4 separate regions of the Homo sapiens genome follow, and all the other regions are linked to region 2. The links come from fine-mapping of genetic effects on gene expression. A gene starts in region 2. Each other region holds a variant in brackets. All regions are shown on one strand. Distances are from middle to middle.

Region 1 (5,936 bases), 81 kb before region 2:
GGGGTGAATGATCTTTTTAATGTGCTGTTGAATCCCATTTGGTAGTATTTTATTTAGGATTTTTGCATCTATGTTTATCAGGAATACTGGTATATGGTTTTTTTTCTTTTAGTGTCCTTGTCTAGCTTTGATATCAGGGTAACACTGGCCTCATAAAAGGAATTTGGAAGCGTTCCCTCTTCTTCAGTATTTTAGAAAAGGTTGAGAAGAATTCATACTAATTCTGCTTTAAATGTTTGACAGAATTCACCCATGAATCCATTTGTTTCTAGGCTTTTCATTGTTGGGAGATTTTTGTTATTGGTTCAATCTCATTACCCATTATTGGTCTGCTCAGATTTTCTGTTTATTCATGATTTAGTATTGGTAGGATGTAGTTTCTAAGGATTTATTCATTTCTTTCAGGTTACCCAATTTGTTGGCTATTCATCCTATTCTCTTATGATTCTTTGCATATATGTGGGATCAGTTGTAATGTCTCCTCTTTTATTTCTGATTTCATTTGAGTATTCTCTCTTTTTTTCTCAGTCTAACTTTGTCTATTTTGGCTGCCAAACTAAAATTGTTTAGTTTGTCAATTTTGTCAATTTTTGTCAGTGTAGGTTTGTCGATCTTGTCTTTTAAAAAACTTTAGTTTTGTTGATCTTTCCTATTATTCTTCTAATCTCTATTTTATTTATTTTTTGCTCTGATCTTTGTTATTTCCTTCCTTCTGCTAACTGTGAGCTTAGTTTGCTCTTTTTCTAGTTCCTTGAGGTATAGAGTTAGGTTGTTTTCTGAGATCTTTCTCTTTCCTAAAATAGGTGTTTATTGTTACAAGCGTCTTCCTCAGAACTACTTTTGCAGCATCCAATAAGTTTAGGTATGTTGAGTTTCCATTTTAATTTGTCTCAATGTTTTTAATTTCCCTTTGGTTTCTCTTTTGACCCATTGATTGCTCAAAAGTATATTGTTTAATTTCCACATATTTGTGAGTTTTCCAGTTTTCCTATTATTTACTTCTAGTTTTATACCATCATGGTTGGAAAGGATACTTGATATGATTTCAATATTCTTGAATTTATTAAGACTTGTTTTATGACATAATATATGATCCACCCTGGAGAATGTTCCATGCACACTTGAGAAGAATGTATATTCTGCTACTGTTGGATGGAATGTGCTGTATATGTCTGTTGATTCCATTTGGTTTATAGGATTGTTTAAACCTAATGTTTCCGTATTGATTTTCCATCTGGACAATCTATCCATTGTTGACAGTTGGGTATTAAAGTCCTCTACTATTATTGTACTATTTCTCCTTACCAGTTCTGTTAATATTTGATTTATACCAATATTACCAGTTAATGTTGTACTAATGACAGTGTATTGGTATTATCAGTTTATGTTAATATTATCAGTTCTGTTAATGTTTGTTTTATATATTTAGTTGCTCCAATGTTGGGTGAATAAATCTTTACTATTGCTATATCTTCTTGATGAAGTGATTCTTTTATCATTAAACAATTATCTTCTTTCTTTTATTGTAACAGTTTTTTACTTAAAGTCTATTTTTTCTGTTATAAGTATAACCACTCCTGCTCTCTTCTGGTTACCATTTTCACGAAATATCTCTTTCCACCCTCTGCTTTCAGCCTATGTGTATCCTCGAAGCTAAAGTGAATCTCTCATAGGAAGCATATAATTGTCTTCTTTTTAATTCATTCAACCATTCTATTTTTTAATGGGAGAATTTAATCCATTTAAAGTCACTTTTGATAGTAAAGACTTATTGTTTTATTTTATTTTATTTTTTAAAGACAGAGTCTTGCTCTGTCACTGAGGCTGAAGTGCAGTGGCACAATCACACTATCATAGCTCACTGTAACCTTGAACTCCTGAAACTCCTGGGCTCAAGTGATCCTCCCACCTCAGCCTCCAGAGTAGCAAGGGCTACAGGTGTGTACTCCCATGCCTAGCTAATTCTTTAAAATTTTTTGTAGAGACAGAGTCTTGCTATGTTGCTCAGGGTAGTCTCGAACTCCTGGCCTCAAGTGATCCTCCTGCCTCAGCCATCCAAAGTGCTGGGATTATAGACATGAGCCACTGTGCCAGCCTGCCATTTTGTTAATTGTTTCTGACTATGCAGTAGTTTTCTTGTACGTTTTGTCCTCTCTTGCAGTCTTCCTTTGTGGGGTTTTTTTTTTTTTTTTTTTTTTTTTTTTTTTTTTTTTTTTTTTTGCTGTGGTATGTTTGATTCTGTTCTCTTCATCATTTTGTATACACTATAGATTTTTGCTTCATGGTTACCATGAGGCATACATAAAACATCTTATAGCAGTCTGTTTTAAGCTGATAACAGCTTCACTTCAGTTGCATACAAATACTATACTTTTGCCTCTCTCTGACCCCGCATTTTATGGGTTTTTTTTAGTCACAATTTACATCT[T/G]TTATATTATGTATCCACTAATGAAATAGTGTAGTTATACTTTTAGTACTTTTATCTTTTAACCTTTATAGAGTTAAAAGTGACTTACATACCATTACATATGAGAATATCATGAATTTGCTATATTTATCAAACATAAAATATCAAATATTATACTATAATACTATAAATACTGTAAATATTATAGTATAATATTATACTATAATATTTACCTTTACATGCAAATTTTATGCTTTCATATATTTTCATCTTAGTAACTGTGTCCTTTTATTGCAGCTTGAAGAACTCCATTTAGCATTTCTTGTAAGACAGGTCTAGTGGTGATAAACTCCCTCAGCTTTTGTTTATCTGGGAAAGTCTTTATCTCTCCTTCATTTCTGAAGGTCAGCTTTTCTGGAGAAAGTATTGTTGATTGACAGTTTTTTCTTTCAGCCTTTTGAATATATTATCCCATTCTTTCTTAGTCTGTAAAGTTTCTGCTGAGAAATCTGCTGACAGCCTTATGAAGATTCTCTTGTGTCTGATATGTCACTTTTGTCTTGCTGCTTTTGAATTTCTTTTTTTTTTTTTGACTTCTGACAATTTGATTATATATATATATGTCTCTGTCATGACTTACTTGGGTTGAGAATGGGAACTTTTGAGCTTCATTAATCTGAATGTCTGTATCTCCCAAGGTTTAATAAGTTTTCAGCCTTATTTCTTAAATAAGCTTTCTTCCCTTTTCTCTCTCTTCTATTTCTGAGGCCCCTGTAATGCAAATATTGTGGCACTTAATGGTGTCTTATAAGTCCCATAGCTTTTTTTTTTTTTTTTACTTTTTCTTTCTTTTTTCTCCACCAACTAGATAATTTCAAAAGGCTTGTCTTTAAGTTCACAGATTCTTTCTTCAGCTTGATTGACTTTGCTGTTGAAGTCCTCTACTGCATTTTTCATTTCATTCATTGTATTCTTTAGCTCCAAGATTTCTTTTTGGTTCTTTTCATGATTTCTATCTCTTTGTTGAATTTCTAGTTTTGTTCACACATTATGTTCCTGATTTTGTGGAGTTATCTACCTGTGTTCTCTTGTATCCCACTGACCTTTTTTAAAATAATTATTTTGAATTCATTTTCAAGCAATTCATAGACCTCCATTTATTTGGGGTCAGTTATAAGAAAATTATTGTGCTCCTTTGGTAGTGTCATGTTTCCTTGACTTTTTGTATTTCCTGTGGCTTTGCATTGATATCTGCACACTTGAGGGAGCAGTCACCTATTCCAGACATTACAGATTAGCCTCAGTGGGGGAAATACTTTCACCTCCAGGAAGGTGTGGGAACGCCAGTTGGGTGGGGTACAGCAGCTCTGGTTTCAGAGAGTGTGCTGTGGTGTACTCTTCATGCAGCTCTATCATTGAGGTCAGCACTGGGGACAACTCTAGGAGTCCTAGACAGCCAAGGCTACAGATATCTGAAGTTATGGCAGCAGCAGCAAAGGCTGTTGGGATCCTTGGCGGCAAAGACTTCTGGGATCTCCCTGTTAGCTCTTTTTCCTCTAGGGAAAGAAGTCCTAACCGAGGGGATCCTTCTTGGTGCCAGGTCTGGTATGGCCTGCAGGCAGTTGCAGCAGCACTGGGTTCTGGGGTATGAGTATTCAGAGCAGCAGCAGAGATGGGCCCCAGAAAACTCTGGGGTGTTCCCCAGTGGCATGGGCTCTGGTGAGAGGATGAAGTGCAGTGGTGGCTTGGGCCACAGAAGGCAGGGCACAGCAGCAGCATGGCCCCAGGCCAACATTTCCAAAAGTTTTAACCCATTCCAGCATCAACTTTAAGTTCCAAATCTAATCTAAACATCACCAACTCAAAAAGTTACAAATTGCATCATCTAAATCAGGTGTTGCTGAAATCTGTATGGTCTATCCTGGGCAAAATTCCTCTCCATCTCTGGACCTATGAAACTAGGAAACAAGTTATCTAAATACAAGTATCTAAAATACAAAGGTGGGCTAGGCATAGGATAGACATTTCCATTCCAAAAAATATTAAATGGAAGGAATAAAGAGGTCACCAATCCCAAAGGAGTCAAAACTGAGCAGGGCAAATTTCATTAGGTCTCAAGCCTTGAGAATAATCCTCTGTCACTCAACACACCCTTGGGGCCCATGGCCGTTCTGCCTTTTGGGTTTGTGGTAGCCCTATCCTCTGAGTCCACAGTGGTCTATCCTTTGGACCTACAGTGGCCTCAGGATCATTCTTTCATTTTCTTAAATGGTAGCAAATATTTACAGCTGACTAGCTCTACTGGCCCACTTTCTGTCTGTAGAAGTTTGGAAGTCTGATAGTGTTCTCACATTTCATCCTGCTTCTATCCTTTTAAAAGTTCAAGCTGGCAGTCTGCAGATACAACATTCTCAAAACCCTTGTGGTTCTCCTGTGGGGGTCCAGGGATTCATGCCATTAGACAAAAGGGTTCTCCACAGATTTCCCATGAGTAACTCATTTCTATTTTTGGCTTCTGGTGAGGTGGTTGAGTGTATCCATGAGTCATGCTTTATCTCTTCAGCAAAAGGTTGTCCAGCCACATCCTTGATCTTCTCTCTAGAACACGCTTCCTAACAGAATTTCCTAACTTTAGCATCCTTTGCAATCTGGGTAGACTGATAACTTCCAAAATAAAAGTGCTTGTTCATTTTTATCTAACAGTTCCTTTCTTATCTTATCTTTTTGCTTGTATTTATTTGACTATAGGCAGCAAGGAAAAACCAGCCTGCATCTTTAATACTTTTCTCGGAAGTCTGCTTTTATTTCTACTCAGAAATATTCAAGCTATTGCTTACAAATTAGGCTTTCCATACAACAAAGAAAACATGATTCAGCCAACTTTTCTGCCCGTATATAAAAGATGACCTTTCCTTCAGCTTTCAGTAACACATTCTTCATTTCCTTCTAGCAACATTCTGTTTACAGCAATATTTGTATTCTCTTAGACAATAGAAGCTTTGTCTACCATGTACCCTACTTCCTTCTGAGCCCTTACCAGAATCCAGAAGTTTTCTATCCTCTGCCTCAAAATTCTTCCAGCTTTGGGTAATTGCACATTACCTAATTCCACAGTCACTTCCACAGTTTTAGGTATTTGTTACAGTAGCACCTCATTTCTAGTCACCAAACTATGTATTCATTTCCTAGGGCTACCTTAATAAAGTGCCACAAAATTGGTGTCTTAAAAAATAGAAATTCATTCTCTCACAGTTCTGGAGGCCAGAAATCTGAAATAAAATTTGCATTCCCTCTGAAGGCCCTATGGGAGAATTATTCCTTATCTCTTCTGGCTTCTGGCAGCTCAAGGTGCTCCTTGACTATGACTGCACCACTCCACTTTCTGCCTCTGCCTTCTTTTTTCGTTTTCTCTTCTGTCTCTTAGAAGGACATTTGTCATTAGATTTGGGACCTACCTGGATAACCCAGGGTGATCTCTTTTCAAGATCCTTAATTACATTTTCAAAGATGCTTTCTCCCAGTAAGGTCA
Region 2 (5,895 bases):
TCCACCATCACGTAAGAAAGCAGTCATGGGCAGTAATTCTGGGAGATCCAGATAGGACATGCCAGCCCCACACTGGTGGCATAGGAAGCCAAGTTGCTGCTTCCTCCCTGTGCACTCCCATTTGTCTGGCCTCTCTTGATCTCAGCTGGCGCTCACTTCACATCAGCTATGATGCAATCCAGCAACTAAAGTATTAGTTAATAAATGCTGACAGCACAGCCTTTTCTGGTCACGTATTCATACTAAAATACGGGGGAGAGTTGGGGGGAGAGGGGGATATATGGGAAATCTCTGTACCTTCCTCTCCATTTTGCTATGACCTAAAGCTGCCCTTTAAAAAATACAAGGGGCTGGGCACAGTGGTTCACGCCTGTAAACCCAGCACTTTGGGAGGCCGAGGCGCGTGGATCACCTGAGGTCAGGAGTTCAAGACCCGCCTGGCCAACATGGCAAAACCCCGTTTCTACTAAAAATACAAAAAGTAGCTGGGCGTGGTCGCATGCATCTGTAGTCCCAGCTACTCAGGAGGCTGAGGCAAGAGAATTGCTTGAACCTGGGAGGCGGCGGTTGAAGTGAGCCAAGATCATGCCATTGCCCTCCAGCCTGGGCAACAGAGCAAGACTCCTTCTCAAGAGAAAAAACAAAACAAAACAAGAAAAAACAAAGAATGAGCTCTCCACGCGAAAAATCCATTGAGATGCAAAGGAAGGAAGCTATCATTGTGGAATTGCACATGTCAGTTACATTAACGTTTTTGGAGCAAGGTAGAGCTCATCTCTCCCACAAGCAAATTCCAGCCCAAAGCATTGATACTAATAAAGTGCCATGCTGCGATGTGCAGGGGGCAGACAGTGTCTCCAAGCTCCCTACACACATGCCTTCCCACAGTTTGCCCTTTCTTGACCCCAGAAGCATCAGGCCCCTTCACCCTCGAGGGCCACTATCAGGAGTTTGAATTAATGGCAATCACCATGCACAGGGAAGGCTGTGGAATTCTGACATAAAAACACTTAGTGGAGGGCTTGGAAAAAGTCTAGTAGGAGCAAGACGCAAGCTGGACTAATTATCTAAAACAAGAGACCTGGTTTGGGGATCTTAATGTTCTCAAAAAAGAAAATTATTATTATTTTTCATTTTGCACTTTGTGCCATAAAACATTTTCAACAAAACATAGAATCTCATTTCTTTTGAGGGAAAATGATTGGGAGACCAGCTCATTGCTGGCACAGAGGCCTGGTTCATTCATAATTCCTTCATAGGCAAGACACCAGGTGAACCGATATAGCCGAGCTGGAAGAGCTCTCCAAGGCAGAGACTCTGAGCCAAGGAATGTTCAAAGAGCTAGCATGTATTGTGGGATTACTATGCGCCAGGAATTTTTTACACTGCATCACGTTCCATCTTCACAACAGCCCTAGAAAGGAAGAACTATTATTACCCCCGTTTTATAGGTGAATAAACAAGGGCACAGGTCCTTGATGTAACAGCCAGGATCAAACAGCTGGGAAGACGAGAAAACCTTTCCCAGGCTAGGATAACAGAGGATTTGGTTGAAAATACAGGCAATTAGGTGCTACCTCTGGGAAAAGGGGCCAGGAGAGGAAGGAGACACTTTTCCCTGCATGCCCTGATGTCCTATTTGAACATTTTATCATGAACACGAACTTCCTATTTAAAAAACACTTTTTATTGAAAAGATAAATCTGTGTGTTGTATTGTGTCACTCAGTTCAAGTACTTGAAATTTATTGAATTGTATTTTCTAAAAAATAGATAGTTGAGTAAAAGCAAGCTCACATTACATAGACGGATCACAGTGCACGGCTGCGGAGCTGGGAGCAGTGGCTTCGTTTCATGCAGGAAAGAGAACTTGGTTCAGGAGTGTCTACGTTGCTTAAGACAGGAGAGCACTAAAAATGAAACCATCCAGCCATCCTCCCCCATTTTCATTTTCACACCAAAGAATCCCACCGCGGCAGAGGACCACCGTCTCTGTTTAGACAATCGGTGAAGAATGGATGACCTCACTTTCCCCAACAGGCGGGTCCTGAAATGTTATGCACGAAACAAAACTTGAGTAAATGCCCAACAGAGGTCACTGTTTTATCGATCTTGAAGAGATCTCTTCTTAGCAAAGCAAAGAAACCGATTGTGAAGGTAACACCATGTTTGGTAAATAAGTGTTTTGGTGTTGTGCAAGGGTCTGGTTTCAGCCTGAAGCCATCTCAGAGCTGTCTGGGTCTCTGGAGACTGGAGGGACAACCTAGTCTAGAGCCCATTTGCATGAGACCAAGGATCCTCCTGCAAGAGACACCATCCTGAGGGAAGAGGGCTTCTGAACCAGCTTGACCCAATAAGAAATTCTTGGGTGCCGACGCGGAAGCAGATTCAGAGCCTAGAGCCGTGCCTGCGTCCGTAGTTTCCTTCTAGCTTCTTTTGATTTCAAATCAAGACTTACAGGGAGAGGGAGCGATAAACACAAACTCTGCAAGATGCCACAAGGTCCTCCTTTGACATCCCCAACAAAGAGGTGAGTAGTATTCTCCCCCTTTCTGCCCTGAACCAAGTGGGCTTCAGTAATTTCAGGGCTCCAGGAGACCTGGGGCCCATGCAGGTGCCCCAGTGAAACAGTGGTGAAGAGACTCAGTGGCAATGGGGAGAGCACTGGCAGCACAAGGCAAACCTCTGGCACAGAGAGCAAAGTCCTCACTGGGAGGATTCCCAAGGGGTCACTTGGGAGAGGGCAGGGCAGCAGCCAACCTCCTCTAAGTGGGCTGAAGCAGGTGAAGAAAGTGGCAGAAGCCACGCGGTGGCAAAAAGGAGTCACACACTCCACCTGGAGACGCCTTGAAGTAACTGCACGAAATTTGAGGATGGCCAGGCAGTTCTACAACAGCCGCTCACAGGGAGAGCCAGAACACAGAAGAACTCAGATGACTGGTAGTATTACCTTCTTCATAATCCCAGGCTTGGGGGGCTGCGATGGAGTCAGAGGAAACTCAGTTCAGAACATCTTTGGTTTTTACAAATACAAATTAACTGGAACGCTAAATTCTAGCCTGTTAATCTGGTCACTGAAAAAAAATTTTTTTTTTTTCAAAAAACATAGCTTTAGCTTATTTTTTTTCTCTTTGTAAAACTTCGTGCATGACTTCAGCTTTACTCTTTGTCAAGACATGCCAAAGTGCTGAGTCACTAATAAAAGAAAAAAAGAAAGTAAAGGAAGAGTGGTTCTGCTTCTTAGCGCTAGCCTCAATGACGACCTAAGCTGCACTTTTCCCCCTAGTTGTGTCTTGCCATGCTAAAGGACGTCACATTGCACAATCTTAATAAGGTTTCCAATCAGCCCCACCCGCTCTGGCCCCACCCTCACCCTCCAACAAAGATTTATCAAATGTGGGATTTTCCCATGAGTCTCAATATTAGAGTCTCAACCCCCAATAAATATAGGACTGGAGATGTCTGAGGCTCATTCTGCCCTCGAGCCCACCGGGAACGAAAGAGAAGCTCTATCTCCCCTCCAGGAGCCCAGCTATGAACTCCTTCTCCACAAGTAAGTGCAGGAAATCCTTAGCCCTGGAACTGCCAGCGGCGGTCGAGCCCTGTGTGAGGGAGGGGTGTGTGGCCCAGGGAGGGCTGGCGGGCGGCCAGCAGCAGAGGCAGGCTCCCAGCTGTGCTGTCAGCTCACCCCTGCGCTCGCTCCCCTCCGGCACAGGCGCCTTCGGTCCAGTTGCCTTCTCCCTGGGGCTGCTCCTGGTGTTGCCTGCTGCCTTCCCTGCCCCAGTACCCCCAGGAGAAGATTCCAAAGATGTAGCCGCCCCACACAGACAGCCACTCACCTCTTCAGAACGAATTGACAAACAAATTCGGTACATCCTCGACGGCATCTCAGCCCTGAGAAAGGAGGTGGGTAGGCTTGGCGATGGGGTTGAAGGGCCCGGTGCGCATGCGTTCCCCTTGCCCCTGCGTGTGGCCGGGGGCTGCCTGCATTAGGAGGTCTTTGCTGGGTTCTAGAGCACTGTAGATTTGAGGCCAACGGGGCCGACTAGACTGACTTCTGTATTTATCCTTTGCTGGTGTCAGGAAGTTCCTTTCCTTTCTGGAAAATGCAGAATGGGTCTGAAATCCATGCCCACCTTTGGCATGAGCTGAGGGTTATTGCTTCTCAGGGCTTCCTTTTCCCTTTCCAAAAAATTAGGTCTGTGAAGCTCCTTTTTGTCCCCCGGGCTTTGGAAGGACTAGAAAAGTGCCACCTGAAAGGCATGTTCAGCTTCTCAGAGCAGTTGCAGTACTTTTTGGTTATGTAAACTCAATGGCTAGGATTCCTCAAAGCCATTCCAGCTAAGATTCATACCTCAGAGCCCACCAAAGTGGCAAATCATAAATAGGTTAAAGCATCTCCCCACTTTCAATGCAAGGTATTTTGGTCCTGTTTGGTAGAAAGAAAAGAACACAGGAGGGGAGATTGGGAGCCCACACTCGAATTCTGGTTCTGCCAAACCAGCCTTGTGATCTTGGGTAAATTCCCTACCACCTCTGGACTCCATCAGTAAAATTGGGCGTGGACTAGGTGATCTCATAGATCCTTCCTGCTGGAACATTCTATGGCTTGAATTATATTCTCCTAATTATTGTCAAAATTGCTGTTATTAAGTATCTACTGTGTGCCAGGCACTTTAAATAAATATTGTGTCTAATCTTCAAAACAAATTTGCAAGGAAGGTTTTTGGAGATAAGGAAACTGAGACTCAGGATTAAGTAACACACCTAAAGTCACAGGTGAGCTTGGAACTGAACCCAAGTGTGCCCCCACTCCACTGGAATTTGCTTGCCAGGATGCCAATGAGTTGTAGCTTCATTTTTCTTAGAGACTTTCCTGGCTGTGGTTGAACAATGAAAAGGCCCTCTAGTGGTGTTTGTTTTAGGGACACTTAGGTGATAACAATTCTGGTATTCTTTCCCAGACATGTAACAAGAGTAACATGTGTGAAAGCAGCAAAGAGGCACTGGCAGAAAACAACCTGAACCTTCCAAAGATGGCTGAAAAAGATGGATGCTTCCAATCTGGATTCAATGAGGTACCAACTTGTCGCACTCACTTTTCACTATTCCTTAGGCAAAACTTCTCCCTCTTGCATGCAGTGCCTGTATACATATAGATCCAGGCAGCAACAAAAAGTGGGTAAATGTAAAGAATGTTATGTAAATTTCATGAGGAGGCCAACTTCAAGCTTTTTTAAAGGCAGTTTATTCTTGGACAGGTATGGCCAGAGATGGTGCCACTGTGGTGAGATTTTAACAACTGTCAAATGTTTAAAACTCCCACAGGTTTAATTAGTTCATCCTGGGAAAGGTACTCTCAGGGCCTTTTCCCTCTCTGGCTGCCCCTGGCAGGGTCCAGGTCTGCCCTCCCTCCCTGCCCAGCTCATTCTCCACAGTGAGATAACCTGCACTGTCTTCTGATTATTTTATAAAAGGAGGTTCCAGCCCAGCATTAACAAGGGCAAGAGTGCAGGAAGAACATCAAGGGGGACAATCAGAGAAGGATCCCCATTGCCACATTCTAGCATCTGTTGGGCTTTGGATAAAACTAATTACATGGGGCCTCTGATTGTCCAGTTATTTAAAATGGTGCTGTCCAATGTCCCAAAACATGCTGCCTAAGAGGTACTTGAAGTTCTCTAGAGGAGCAGAGGGAAAAGATGTCGAACTGTGGCAATTTTAACTTTTCAAATTGATTCTATCTCCTGGCGATAACCAATTTTCCCACCATCTTTCCTCTTAGGAGACTTGCCTGGTGAAAATCATCACTGGTCTTTTGGAGTTTGAGGTATACCTAGAGTACCTCCAGAACAGATTTGAGAGTAGTGAGGAACAAGCCAGAGCTGTGCAGATG
Region 3 (5,936 bases), 19 kb before region 2:
CAACCCTTTATTTCCACACCCCGACCCCTTTCCCACTTTTCTGGAGGGTAAGAACCCCCGAACCCCTTCCCTCCGTGTCTCTACTCTCTCTTTTCTCTAGGCTTGCCTCCTTCACTATGGGCAAACTTCCACCCTCCATTCCCCCTTCTTCTCCCTTAGCCTGTGTTCTTAAAAACCTAAAACCTCTTCAACTCACACCTGACCTAAAACCTAAAGGCCTTATTTTCTTCTACAATGCCGCTTGACCCCAATACAAACTCGATAGTGGTTCCAAACAGCCAGAAAACAGCACTTTCATTTTTTCCATCTTACAAGATCTAAATAATTCTTGTCATAAAATGGGCAAGTGGTCTGAGGTGCCTGACGTCCAGGCATTCTTTTACACATCAGTCCTCCCTAGTCTGTGTTCCCAATGCAACTCGTCCCAAATCTTCCCTCTTTCCTTCCCGCCTGTCCCCTCAGTCCCAACCCCAAGTGTCGCCGAGTCTTTCTAATCTTCCTTTTCTACAGACCCATCTGACCTCTCTCCTCCATGCCAGGCCCAGCTAGGTCCCAATTCTTCCTCAGCCTCTGCTCCTCCACCCTATAATCCTTTTATCACCTCCCCTCCTCACACCCAGTCTGGCTTACAGTTTCGTTCCATGACTAGCCCTCCCCCACCTGCCCAGCAATTTCCTCTTAAAAAGTAGCTGGAGCTAAAGGCATAGTCAAGGTTAATGCTCCTTTTCTTTATCCCAAATAAGAGAGCATTTAGGCTCTTTTTCATGAAATATGAAAAACCCAGCCCAGTTCATGGCTCATTTGGCAGCAACCCTGAGACACTTTACAGCCCTAGACCCTAAAAGGTCAAAAGGCCGTCTTATTCTCAACACACATTTTATTACCCAATCCACTCCCGACTTTAAATAAATCTCCAAAAATTAAATTCCGGCCCTCAAACCCCACAACAGGACTTAATTAACCTCACCTTCAAGGTGTACAAAAATAGAAAAAAGTTGCAATTCCTTGCCTCCACTGTGAGACAAACCCCAGCCACATCTCCAGCACACAAGAACTTCCAAATACCTGAACCACAGCAGCCAGGCGTTCCTCCAGAACCTCCTCCCCCAGGAGCTTGCTACAAGTGCTGGAAATCTGGCCACTGCGCCAAGGAATGCCCACAGCCCAGGATTCCTCCTAAGCCGTGTCCCATCTGTGCGGGACCCCCAAGAAAATCGGACTGTTCAACTCACCTGGCAGCCACTTCCAGAGCCCCTGGAACTCTGGCCCAAGGCTCTCTGACTGACTCCTTCCCAGATCTTCTCGGCTTAGCAGCTGAAGACTGACACTGCCCAATCACCTCAGAAGCCTACAGGACCATCACAGACACTCTAGGTAACTCTCACAGTGGAGGGTAAGTCCGTCCCCTTCTTAATCAATACGGAGGCTACCCACTCCACATTACCTTCTTTTCAAGGGCCTGTTTCCCTTGCCTCCATAACTGTTGTGGGTATTGATGGCCAAGCTTCAAAACCCCTGAAAACTCCCCCACTCTAGTGCCAACTTGGACAACACTCTTTTATGCATTCTTTTTTAGTTATTCCCACCTGCCCAGTTCCCTTATTAGGCCGAGATATTTTAAGCAAATTATCTGCTTCCCTGACTATTCCTGGACTACAGCCACATCTCATTGCCGCCCTTATCCCCAACCCAAAGCCTCCTTTGCGTCTTCCTCTCATATCCCCCAACCTTAACCCACAAGTATAGGACATCTCTACTCCTTCCCTGGCAACGGATCACATGCCCATTACCATCCCATTAAAACCTAATTACCCTTACCCCGCTCAACGCCAATATCCCATCCCACAGCACGCTTTAAAAGGATTAAAGCCTGTTATCACTCACCTGCTACAGCATAGGCTTCTAAAACCTATAAACTCTCCTTACAATTCCCCCATTTTACCTGTCCAAAAACCGGACAAGTCTTACAGATTAGTTCAGGATCTGTGCCTTATCAACCAAATTGTTTTGCCTATCCACCCTGTGGTGCCCAACCCGTACACTCTTTTGTCCTCAATACCTTCCTCCACAACTCACTATTCCATTCTTGATCTTAAAAATGCTTTTTTCACTATCCCCCTGCACCCCTCGTCCCAGCCTCTCTTTGCTTTCACCTGGACTGACGCTGACACCCATCAGTCCCAGCAGCTTACCTGGGCTGTGTTGCCGCAAGGTTTCAGGGACAGCCCTCATTACTTCAGCCAAGCTCTTTCTCATGATTTACTTTCTTTCCACCCCTCCGCTTCTCACCTTATTCAATATATTGAGGATCTTCTTCTTTGTAGCCCCTCCTTTGAATCTTCTCAACAAGACACACTTCTGCTCCTTCAGCATTTATTCTCCAAAGGATATCAGGTATCCCCCTCCAAAGCTCAAATTTATTGTCCATCCATTACCTACCTTGGCATAATTCTTCATAAAAACACACGTGCTCTCCCTGCCGATCATGTCCAACTGATCTCTCAAACCCTAACCCCTTCTACAAAACAACAACTCCTTTCCTTCCTGGGC[T/A]TGGTTGGATACTTTCGCCTCTGGATACCTGGTTTTGCCATCCTAACAAAACCATTATATAAACTCACAAAAGGAAACCTAGCTGACCCCATAGATCCTAAATCCTTTCCCCACTCCTCTTTCCATTCCTTGAAGACAGCTTTAGAGACTGCCCCCACCCTAGCTCTCCCTGACTCATCCCAACCCTTTTCATTACACACAGCCGAAGTGCAGGGCTGTGCAGTCGGAATTCTTACACAAGGACCGGGATCATGTCCTGTAGCCTTTTTGTCCAAACAACTTGACCTTACTGTTTTAGGCTGGTCATCATGTCTCTGTGCAGTGGCTACTGCTGCCCTAATACTTTAGAGGCCCTTAAAATCACAAACTATGCTCAACTCACTCTCTACAGTTCTCATAACTTCCAAAATCTATTTTCCTCCTCACACCTGACACATATACTTTCTGCTCCCCGGCTCCTTCAGCTGGACTCACTCTTTGTTAAGTCTCCCACAATTACCCTTGTTCCTGGCCCAGACTTCAATCCGGCCTCCCACATTATTCCTGATACCACACCTGACCACCATGACTGTACCTCTCTTATCCACCAGACATTCAACCCCATTTCCCCATATTTCCTTCTTTCCTGTTCCTCACCCTGATCACACTTGATTTATTGATGGCAGTTCCACCAGGCCTAATCGCCACACACCAGCAAAGGCAGGCTATGCTACAGCACAAGCCACTAGCCCACCCCTTAGAACCTCTCATTTCCTTTCCATCGTAAAAATCTACCCTCAAGGAAATAACTTCTCAGTGTTCCATCTGCTATTCTACTACTCCTCAAGGATTATTCAGGCCCCCTCCCTTCCCTACACATCAAGCTGGAGGATTTGCCCCCACCCTGGACTGGCAAATTGACTTTACTCAACATGCCCAAGTCAGAAAACTAAAATACCTCTTAGTCTAGGTAGACACTTTCACTGGATAGGTAGAGACCTTTCCTACAGGGTCTGAGAAGGCCACTGCAGTCATTTCTTCCCTTCTGTCAGACATAATTTCTCAGTTTAGCCTTCCCACCTCTATACAGTCTGATAACAGACTAGCCTTTATTAGTCAAATCAGCCAAGGAGTTTTTCAGGCTCTTAGTATTCAGTGAAACCTTTATATCCCTTACGGTTGGTCCTCAGTCTTCAGGAAAAGTAGAACGGACTAAAGGTCTTTTAAAAACACACCTCACCAAGCTCAGCCACCAACTTAAAAAGGAGTGGACAATAATTTTACCACTTTCCCTTCTCAGAATTCAGGCCTGTCCTCAGAATGCTACAGGGTACAGCCCATTTGAGCTCCTGTACGGACGCTCCTTTTTATTAGGCCCCAGTCTCATCCCAGACACCAGACCAACTTAGACTGTGCCCCAAAAAACTTGTCATCCCTACTATTTTCTGTCTAGTCATACTCCTATTCACCGTTCTCAACTACTCATACATGCCCTGCTCTTGTTTACACTGCCGGTTTATACTGTTTCTCCAAGTCATCACAGCTGATATCTCCTGATGCTATCCCCAAACTGCCACTCTTAACTCTTAAAGTAAATAAATAATCTTTGCTGGCAGGACTATGCTGAATCTCCTTAGGCACTCTCTAGTCAAATGTCCTAGGTCCTCCCAATTCTTAGACCTTTAATACCTGTTTTTCTCCTTCTCTTATTCCATTTAGTTTTTCAATTCATACAAAACTGTATCCAGGCCATCACCAATAATTCTAAATGACAAATGTTTCTTCTAACAACCCCACAATATCACCCCTTACCACAAGATCTGCCTTCAGCTTAATCTCTCCCACTGTAGGTTCCCACACCGCCCCAATCCCGCTCGAAGCAGCCCATTATCTCTCCATACTACCCCCAAAAATTTTCGCCGCCCTAACACTTTATCACTATTTCGTCTTATTTTTCTTATTAATATAAGAAGACAGGAATGTCAGGCCTCTGAGCCCAAGCTAAGCCGTCATATCCCCTGTGACCTGAACGTACACATCCAGATGGCCGGTTCCTGCCTTAACTGATGACATTCCACCACAAAAGAAGTGAAAATGGCCTGTTCCTGCCTTAACTGATGACATTATCTTGTGAAATTCCTTCTCCTGGCTCATCCTGGCTCAAAAGCTCCCCTACTGAGCACCTCGTGACCCCCACTCCTGCCCGACAGAGAACAACCCCTTTGACTGTAATTTTCCTTTACCTACCCAGATCCTATAAAATGGCCCCACCCCCATCTCCCTTTGCTGACTCTCTTTTCAGACTCAGCCTGCCTGCACCCACGTGAAATAAACAGCCTTGTTGCTCACACAAAGCCTGTTTAGTGGTCTCTTCACACGGACGCGCATGAAAGATACTGCCCCTCATAGTGCCCGGCCATTGCATCAGGAGGAGAAATCCTCTGAGGTGTGATAAGGCAGGAAAAGGGCCTGGATTTAGGGGCTGAGGACACTTTAAGCTACCTGGTGGCATGGGAGTGTGCACAAGTTCCTTTGTTCCCTGGGGAGAGGCACAAAAGAGGTCTGGTAGTGCTCGCTGATCAGTTTACAAAGGAGGTCTCCAGGCAAAGGGCATGGGGGAGTGAGATTGACCCAACCTTGCTGAGAGCTCCCAGGCCTGCCCCCACCCGGGGAATCACAGGTGGACCCAGTCAGAGCAGGCTGACAGAGTACAGGCCTCAAGGCCACTCACTGAAGAAAGTAAGAGCAGATGCCACCAGGCTGACCACAGGACAGTGTGATCTGCGTTCCACCACAGGTATCAGTAAGTGTCCAGATAACTTCCCCAAAGTGCCAGCTTTGGAAAGAGAAGGTGGAGGAGCGGAGCGCTGAAAGATGCAGCATTTCCTCGAAAGGAGCTGTGTCGAAGCGAAAGGAGACAGTAAAGCAGAAGGGACTGGGCTCCCATTAGCGAGCAAGGCTGGACTTCCCTGCTGCCCAAAAGGAAGGACTTATAAGAAGAAAGATAACCTATCAGTTAGAGCAAAACAGAGGTGCTGCCCTTTGTGTATCCAAGTGTAGGGAGTGAATTAATCCGTGACCCACTATGCAAAAACATATTACATAAAACTCCCAGAGCTCTTAGGAGAGGTTGCCTCTGAGAAGCGGAACTGGGGTCAGTGGATGTGCAGGTGGTAAACCTTATTGCTTTTGTAATAGAAAATGTGAAAATGTTTTAAATAGACCTCACCAGAAGCACTCGTAATACAAAATTAAATAGTCTCACTTCTCATTATACCCTATTTCTACATAAAATTCTAAATGATACTTTGCTGGAAACCAATGATTTCTTCTTTTTTATTTATTATTGATGAACTCTACAGTTCCACATCCAAACCAAAAGGGACTCAAATGTTTCAAGTTTATCA
Region 4 (5,936 bases), 120 kb before region 2:
AAAAGTTGCCACTAACAGCCGGGGAGAATTGCAAGTCATTATCAGAACACCTTTAAAAATTCTCAATAGAAATGTATGAATACAATGGCTGTGCCAGAAGCAAGAGATAGTCAGACATGAAGAAAGTATAAAGAAAAATAAAAACATGCTAAGTTATAAAACTGGTCTGGGTGCGAAGCCAGGCTGGCTGATGCTTTGCAATGGAGTAGCTCTGAAGCTGCCTCTTCCAGTGCCTGTGCCCTACTGGACAAAGATAGCCACAGCCTCAGTCCCTCTTTTGGTACAGATACCAAAAGGTCTTGATCAACTGGGACTTCACCGATACAGCCCTCAAGAGCCTGCAGTCCTTGCATATCTCAACTTTACCCCTTCAAGCATTCTGAAATTCACCTCAAGTTTCCATTCCTTGTGACATGTGCCATTATCAAGATTCATTAGTTCGTGACCGTGCTTGAAGAGCACACCACAAAATATGCCATGCACACGACAAAGCATGTCCTCTTTAAGAATGAGTGAGAAGTGTATGGAACAGAATCAAAACTGTCAGAGTGGCCTTGCTTTGAGCACTCCCTAAGTGAAATAATGTTCTCCAAACAGCAGTCTCCTGGAAACTGATAACCATGTTTAACATACTTAGTGGCATTAAAACTATCATCCATGTACTTATTTTTTGCCTTTTTAAAAACTGACATATAATATTTTACATATTTATGGGGTACATGTGATATTTTGTTACGTGGATCAAATCAGTTTTGGGGGTGTCCATCCCTTGAGTATTTATCATCTCTGTGTTGGGAACATTTCAAGTCATAGCTACTTTGAAATATCATGCATTTATTAAAAGTAATTCATGCACATTGTAAAACAAGATTAAACAAGGCAGAAATGGATAAAGTAAAAAAGTTCTCTTCTCTGACTCAGTCCCAATCCCTAGACTATTCTAGATTTTTAAAATGTAGATATTAATAGAAATACAAATAGATATTTTTTTTTAAATGAGATCATATGTGCATTCAATTTTGTAACCTGCCTGTCTCACTTGCTCGTATGTCGTGGACAACTTTCAGTGTTGTTTATGTAGATTTACCTCTTTCCATTTGATGTTTGCACAGTGTTCTACTGCATGGATAGTTTATTTAACCACACATTCATCTAACAGTAGTACCCAAAACATAGAAAGCTCTCAATAAATACTGGCTCTTATGTATAATCATAGAAATGTTTTTATATTTCCTTATTTATACTTCCTCACTCCTAAAATGTATTATACTTTTTTTAATGTACAAATTCCCAGACATGTATATTTTATAAAGGATAAACACTAGCTTTTACTCTAGCTTTTATTTATCAATTCTACACTTCAGTTTTCTTTCTGTCTTTATTACTATGTTCTATTTCTTTGAGTTAATTTTATCTTTTTGTTTGTTTTTTTGGAGACAGAGTCTTGCTCTGTCACCCAGGCTGGAGTGCAGTGGCACAATCTCGGCTCACTGCAACCTCAACCTCCCAGGTTCAAGTGATTCTCCTGCCTCAGCCTCCCGAGTAGCTGGGATTACAGGCATGTGCCATCATGCCCAACTAATTTTTGTATTTTTAGTTGAGACAGGATTTCACCATGTTGGCCCGGGTGGTCTTGAACTCCTGACTTCAAGTGATCTGCCTGCCTCAGCCTCCCAAAGTGCTGGGATTACAGGCATGAGCCACCACACCCAGCCTAATTTTGATCCTCTTCTTCTAGCTTCTAGAGTTGAATATGTAACTATGTTTATTTTATTCTCCTGTTTTCTAAAAAGGTATTTTAAAGTCATCTGAGGGAACTATTTTAACATGCCTTTGTCTGTACCCGCTTTTTAATATATAGTAGTCTTACCATCAGTTTACCTAAATAAATCTTAATTTCAGTTCTGAGTTCCTTTAGACCCAAGAATTATTTAGAATAATGTTTTTACACTTCCAAGTGTTATGAGTAGTTTTATTGTCATTGCTAATTTAAGTCTCATTGCAGTGTGTTGAGGCAACATGCCTCATATGTTTTCTATTTTTAAGAAATCACTGAGTTTTTCTTTGTCATAGAAAGGACAAGTTTCCTATCACATGTGTTTTCATAGTGCTGATGAGATGTAATGCAGGCTATTAATTGGAGTACGTGATGCAGTACATGCGCTGTTGTTTATAATGGGTTGCCATCTGGAAGAGGGCCTGTGCCTCTGGGAAACAGACCATTGCTTGCTTCGTGCTGGAATACACACCTACGGTTGCGTGGTATAGCCTGCTCAGCTAGAATCACAATCTCATGATTACTGTTCATGTTTGTAAACTATGACACAGGCAAATTGCAGGATCAGCATCAAAGATGTTAGCTGTGACTAAGAGATTCCTGCTGTGCAAGTTGAAAAACAAATGAGAACATATTATGTTCTTTTTCATTAGTTTTGATAAATCAATTTATTTTTTTCAACGTATTCTTTTTAACTAGCAATAATATTCTCAACTGATGACCCTGCCTTATACTCTCGAACTGTGCTGCCCAATACGGTAGCCACTAGATACACATGGCTATTTACATTTAAATTAATTTAAATTAAATAAAATCCAAACTTCAGTCCCTCAGTTGCACCAACCACTGACCATGTTCAATAGCCACATGTGGCTGTTGTACTGGACAATGCAGATATAAAGCATTTCTATTATTACAAAATTTTTTATTAGATATTCCAGCTCTAGGGGTGAAAATAGTGTGATTGTTTTTTGATGTGTCAACTTGACTAGGTTACAGTCCCCAGTTATTCAATGAAACACTAATCTAGGTGTTGCTGTGAAGGCGTGATTTAGTAGGTGTGATTAAAATGCATAATCAGTTGACCTGTAGTAAGGAAGATTATCCTAGATTATTCAGGTGGGCCAGGTCCCATCAGCTGGATGGAAGGCTTCAATAACAGAACAGAGGTGTTTCTGATGAAGAAGAAATTCTGCCTGTGGACATTTCATTTTATGCCTGAGAGTTCCAGCCCTCTTCCTCACAGCCTGCTCTTCCTCACAGCCTGCCCTGTGAATTTTGGAGGTTTCCCACAATCACACAAGCCAATTCCTTGCAATAAATCTCTCTCTATATATAGAATACAGATATTCAGTAGCAGATATATATTCAATTGCTTCTCCAGTTAAATTCTAATACAGAAACTCTCTCATCTATACAACCCCCAAACTACAAACAAACAGACCTGCCCCAAATTCATCTTCATCTGCTCTCCTGTCCACAGGACTCTGGATCCCATTTACTCTCACCTTCCCAAAGGTGTTGCTCCATTAGTTATCCTTTACCTCTTTTGTGTTTCCATCTTTT[C/T]CTTTTCTACTGGGTCTTTTCTATCATGTTCTAGTATGAGTCAAACACTTGAATGCACGCAGGTGGTTTATCTAGAAGTGATCCCAAGGTGGGAAAAAGAGGGGCAAAGTAAAGAATGAAGTGAAGCCAATACACAGATGCCTTTTTTTAAATCACCTTTACAGGCACCAATCCCATGGGACCTTCTGAGCAAACTTATGCAATGGGTCTTAAAAACTGTCCACCAAAGAGAGAAAAGAGGACAGCATTTATCTATCAGCTTTTATTGCCCTGTAGTCAAGGGTCATCCCTTGGTTGTCAACTCCCCTGGTTTCTGGGTTGCACAAGCATGAGTGCTGAAAAGGTTCCCTCACATGTTCCCAGCCACAAAACAAAGAAGCCCTAGAGTAGTATGTGAGAGGAAAGGGCTCAAAGCAAGGCATGGCCAAGTTAAGCCTGCAGGAGCTCAGAACTTAGCAAGGCAGTGGCTAGGCTAAGAGCAGAGCCAACAGGATTTAAAGTAACATACAAGAGGTGTCCAATACAGTCCCCTCCATATGCTAACTTGTTTCCTTATATTCCTTCACAGTCATACTTGCTGAAAGACTTGTGTACATATGCTACCTCCACTTTTCATCTCCCATTCACAACTAATCCAACTGTAAGCTGACTTCTCCCACATCTACTACATCTACTATCTCCCAAACTTCTTCTCAAGGTCACTAATGATCTCCATCTTGCCAATTCCATTGAACCTTCTCCAGTCTTAGTTTACTCAATATCTCAGCACCATTCAACACAGCAATCACTTTCTTCACAAAATACTCTTTTCTCTTGACTTTCATGGCACCACACTTCTAGGTTTTCTCCTGGACTCTCCTTCGTGCTGTCCTTTCCTGGCTCTTCCTTTTCTTTTCTTTTCTTTTCTTTCTTTTTTTTTAGAGATGGGGTCTCACTTTGCAAGGCTGCTCACTGCAGCCTTGACCTCTGGGGCTCAAGCAATCCTCTAGCCTCAGCCTCCCAAGTGGCTGGGACTACAGGAATGCACCACTGTGGTTGGCTAATTTTTTATTGTTTTGTAGAGATGGGGTCTTGCCATCTTGCCTAAGCTGGCCTCAAACTCCTTGGCTCAAGTAATCCTCCCACCTCAGTCTCCTAAATGTTGGGATCACAGGCATGAGCCATGGTGTCTTGCCCTGGCTTTTCCTTTTCTAACACTGGATCCCCTCAGGGCTCCACCCTGGGGCCCCTTCTCTTCCCACTATATACTCTCCTTCTTAGCTAACTCATGTATTCTAATGACTTTAAATATGTTTTCCATTCTTTATATACATCACTCCCACATTTATTTATATAACCTTGATTGCTCTTTCAGCTCTAGACCCAACTGCACACAACTATACAGGAATCTTAACATGTCCAAAATGGAACTCTATATCCTTTCTTGAAAACGTGGTCTTCCTCTAGCCTGTCCCATTCAGTAAATGATACCAACATTTACCTAATTGTTCAAGCCAGAAATCTAGGAGTTAGCCTTGATTCCACCACTCTCACCATCATAGCCAATATAACACAAAGTTCTGTTTATTCTACCACTGGAATATCTCTCAAATCCATCCAACTTCTCTCCATCTCCACTACCATCCACCTTGTCCAAGTCGCTTCTCTCCTGAACTCCTGGGAAACCTCCTAATGGTTTTTCCTGCATCCATTTTTGTTCCTATTCCAATCCTTTCTCCTTATGGCAAAGACATAATCTTATATTGTCAAATCATTTTATTCCCCAGCTCAAAACACTTCAACAGATACCAATTGTTTTTTGGTTAACATCTTAGATTAGTAACAAGACTTAGAGGGCGTCTCTGCATGTTTCTCCAGCACAATCTTGCATCCCAGCCCCGTTCCCTCATATGCGCACCTATATCAGCTTCCTTTCAGTTTCTCATGGACACTGGGCCCTTTTCCTTTGAAGTTTGTTGTGCTATTCCTGCTGAGTGACACATTCTTCTCCTGCTTATTCTGGGGAAATCCCATTCTTTAGGTCTCAGCTAACTGTCACTTCCTTAAAGAGGCCTACCATTGTCCACCTCTCTGTAATTTAGCAATTTGTAATTTTCCTTCAAGGAATTCATCATCATGCATAACTATGTATTTATTTATATAATTATCTGTTATTGCCTGTCCTGCTGCTCCATGAGAGGAGTAAAAACACCTATGCCATTCTTTACAGAATCCTTGGAGCTCAGCATAGTGCCTGGCAATCAAAAAATACTAACTAAATGATTGAAGAGAAGAAGGGAGGAAAGGAGGAAGGAATAAATTATTAAAATCTTATAAAGAAATTAAATTGTATTGTGAGTCTGAAATACTCAAACCTGAACTCCATCTTCCTCATTGAAATAATTGTGTAATGAACACAGGTCTGTGTTAATAAGACCCATCCTTGTTGCTATGTGGACATCTAACCTATTCCTTCTAGCTTCTGTGTCCACCACAAAGTCTTCCCACTTGATACTGAACACTCAGATTGCCTCAAACTCTCCCATCATCATAAGCAATAGCCAATGTTTAAAATGCTACTTTGGAAATGTCTGAAGATGTTTTTAATAAAATT

Alleles and levels. Alleles are on the strand shown, and positions count from the first base shown. SD is a standard deviation of normalised expression in the study named. Not every link is listed here.
As copies of T replace A in region 3, the expression in monocytes after LPS of the gene that starts at base 3,471 in region 2 goes up (moderate effect, 0.74 SD a copy in Fairfax 2014).

The links. PIP is the estimated chance that this variant, and not a neighbour inherited with it, causes the effect.
Region 1: its variant is the best candidate, but not a certain one, in a credible set for the expression of IL6 in whole blood (INTERVAL, PIP 0.68).
Region 3: its variant is the best candidate, but not a certain one, in a credible set for the expression of IL6 in monocytes after LPS (Fairfax 2014, PIP 0.87).
Region 4: its variant is the best candidate, but not a certain one, in a credible set for the expression of IL6 in whole blood (TOPMed, PIP 0.56).

What each region holds. Positions count from the first base shown.
Region 1 is chr7:22,642,692-22,648,627 of GRCh38, forward strand. No RefSeq gene overlaps it. Among named protein-coding and RNA genes, the nearest start is that of IL6, 82 kb to the right of the region's middle. The variant T/G (reference allele first, on the strand shown) is at 2,429.
Region 2 is chr7:22,723,730-22,729,624 of GRCh38, forward strand. IL6 (interleukin 6) reads left to right here and starts at 3,471. Exons shown (of 5, transcript NM_000600.5): 1 at 3,471-3,552; 2 at 3,715-3,905; 3 at 4,964-5,077; 4 at 5,785-5,895. The coding sequence starts at 3,534. It overlaps IL6-AS1 (IL6 antisense RNA 1), which reads right to left and starts at 3,891. Exons shown (of 2, transcript NR_131935.1): 1 at 3,839-3,891; 2 at 1,666-2,976. RefSeq lists a silencer at 2,886-2,935 and an enhancer at 2,921-4,120.
Region 3 is chr7:22,704,395-22,710,330 of GRCh38, forward strand. No RefSeq gene overlaps it. Among named protein-coding and RNA genes, the nearest start is that of IL6, 20 kb to the right of the region's middle. RefSeq lists an enhancer at 4,447-5,083. The variant T/A (reference allele first, on the strand shown) is at 2,551.
Region 4 is chr7:22,605,142-22,611,077 of GRCh38, forward strand. No RefSeq gene overlaps it. Among named protein-coding and RNA genes, the nearest start is that of STEAP1B-AS1, 45 kb to the left of the region's middle. The variant C/T (reference allele first, on the strand shown) is at 3,344.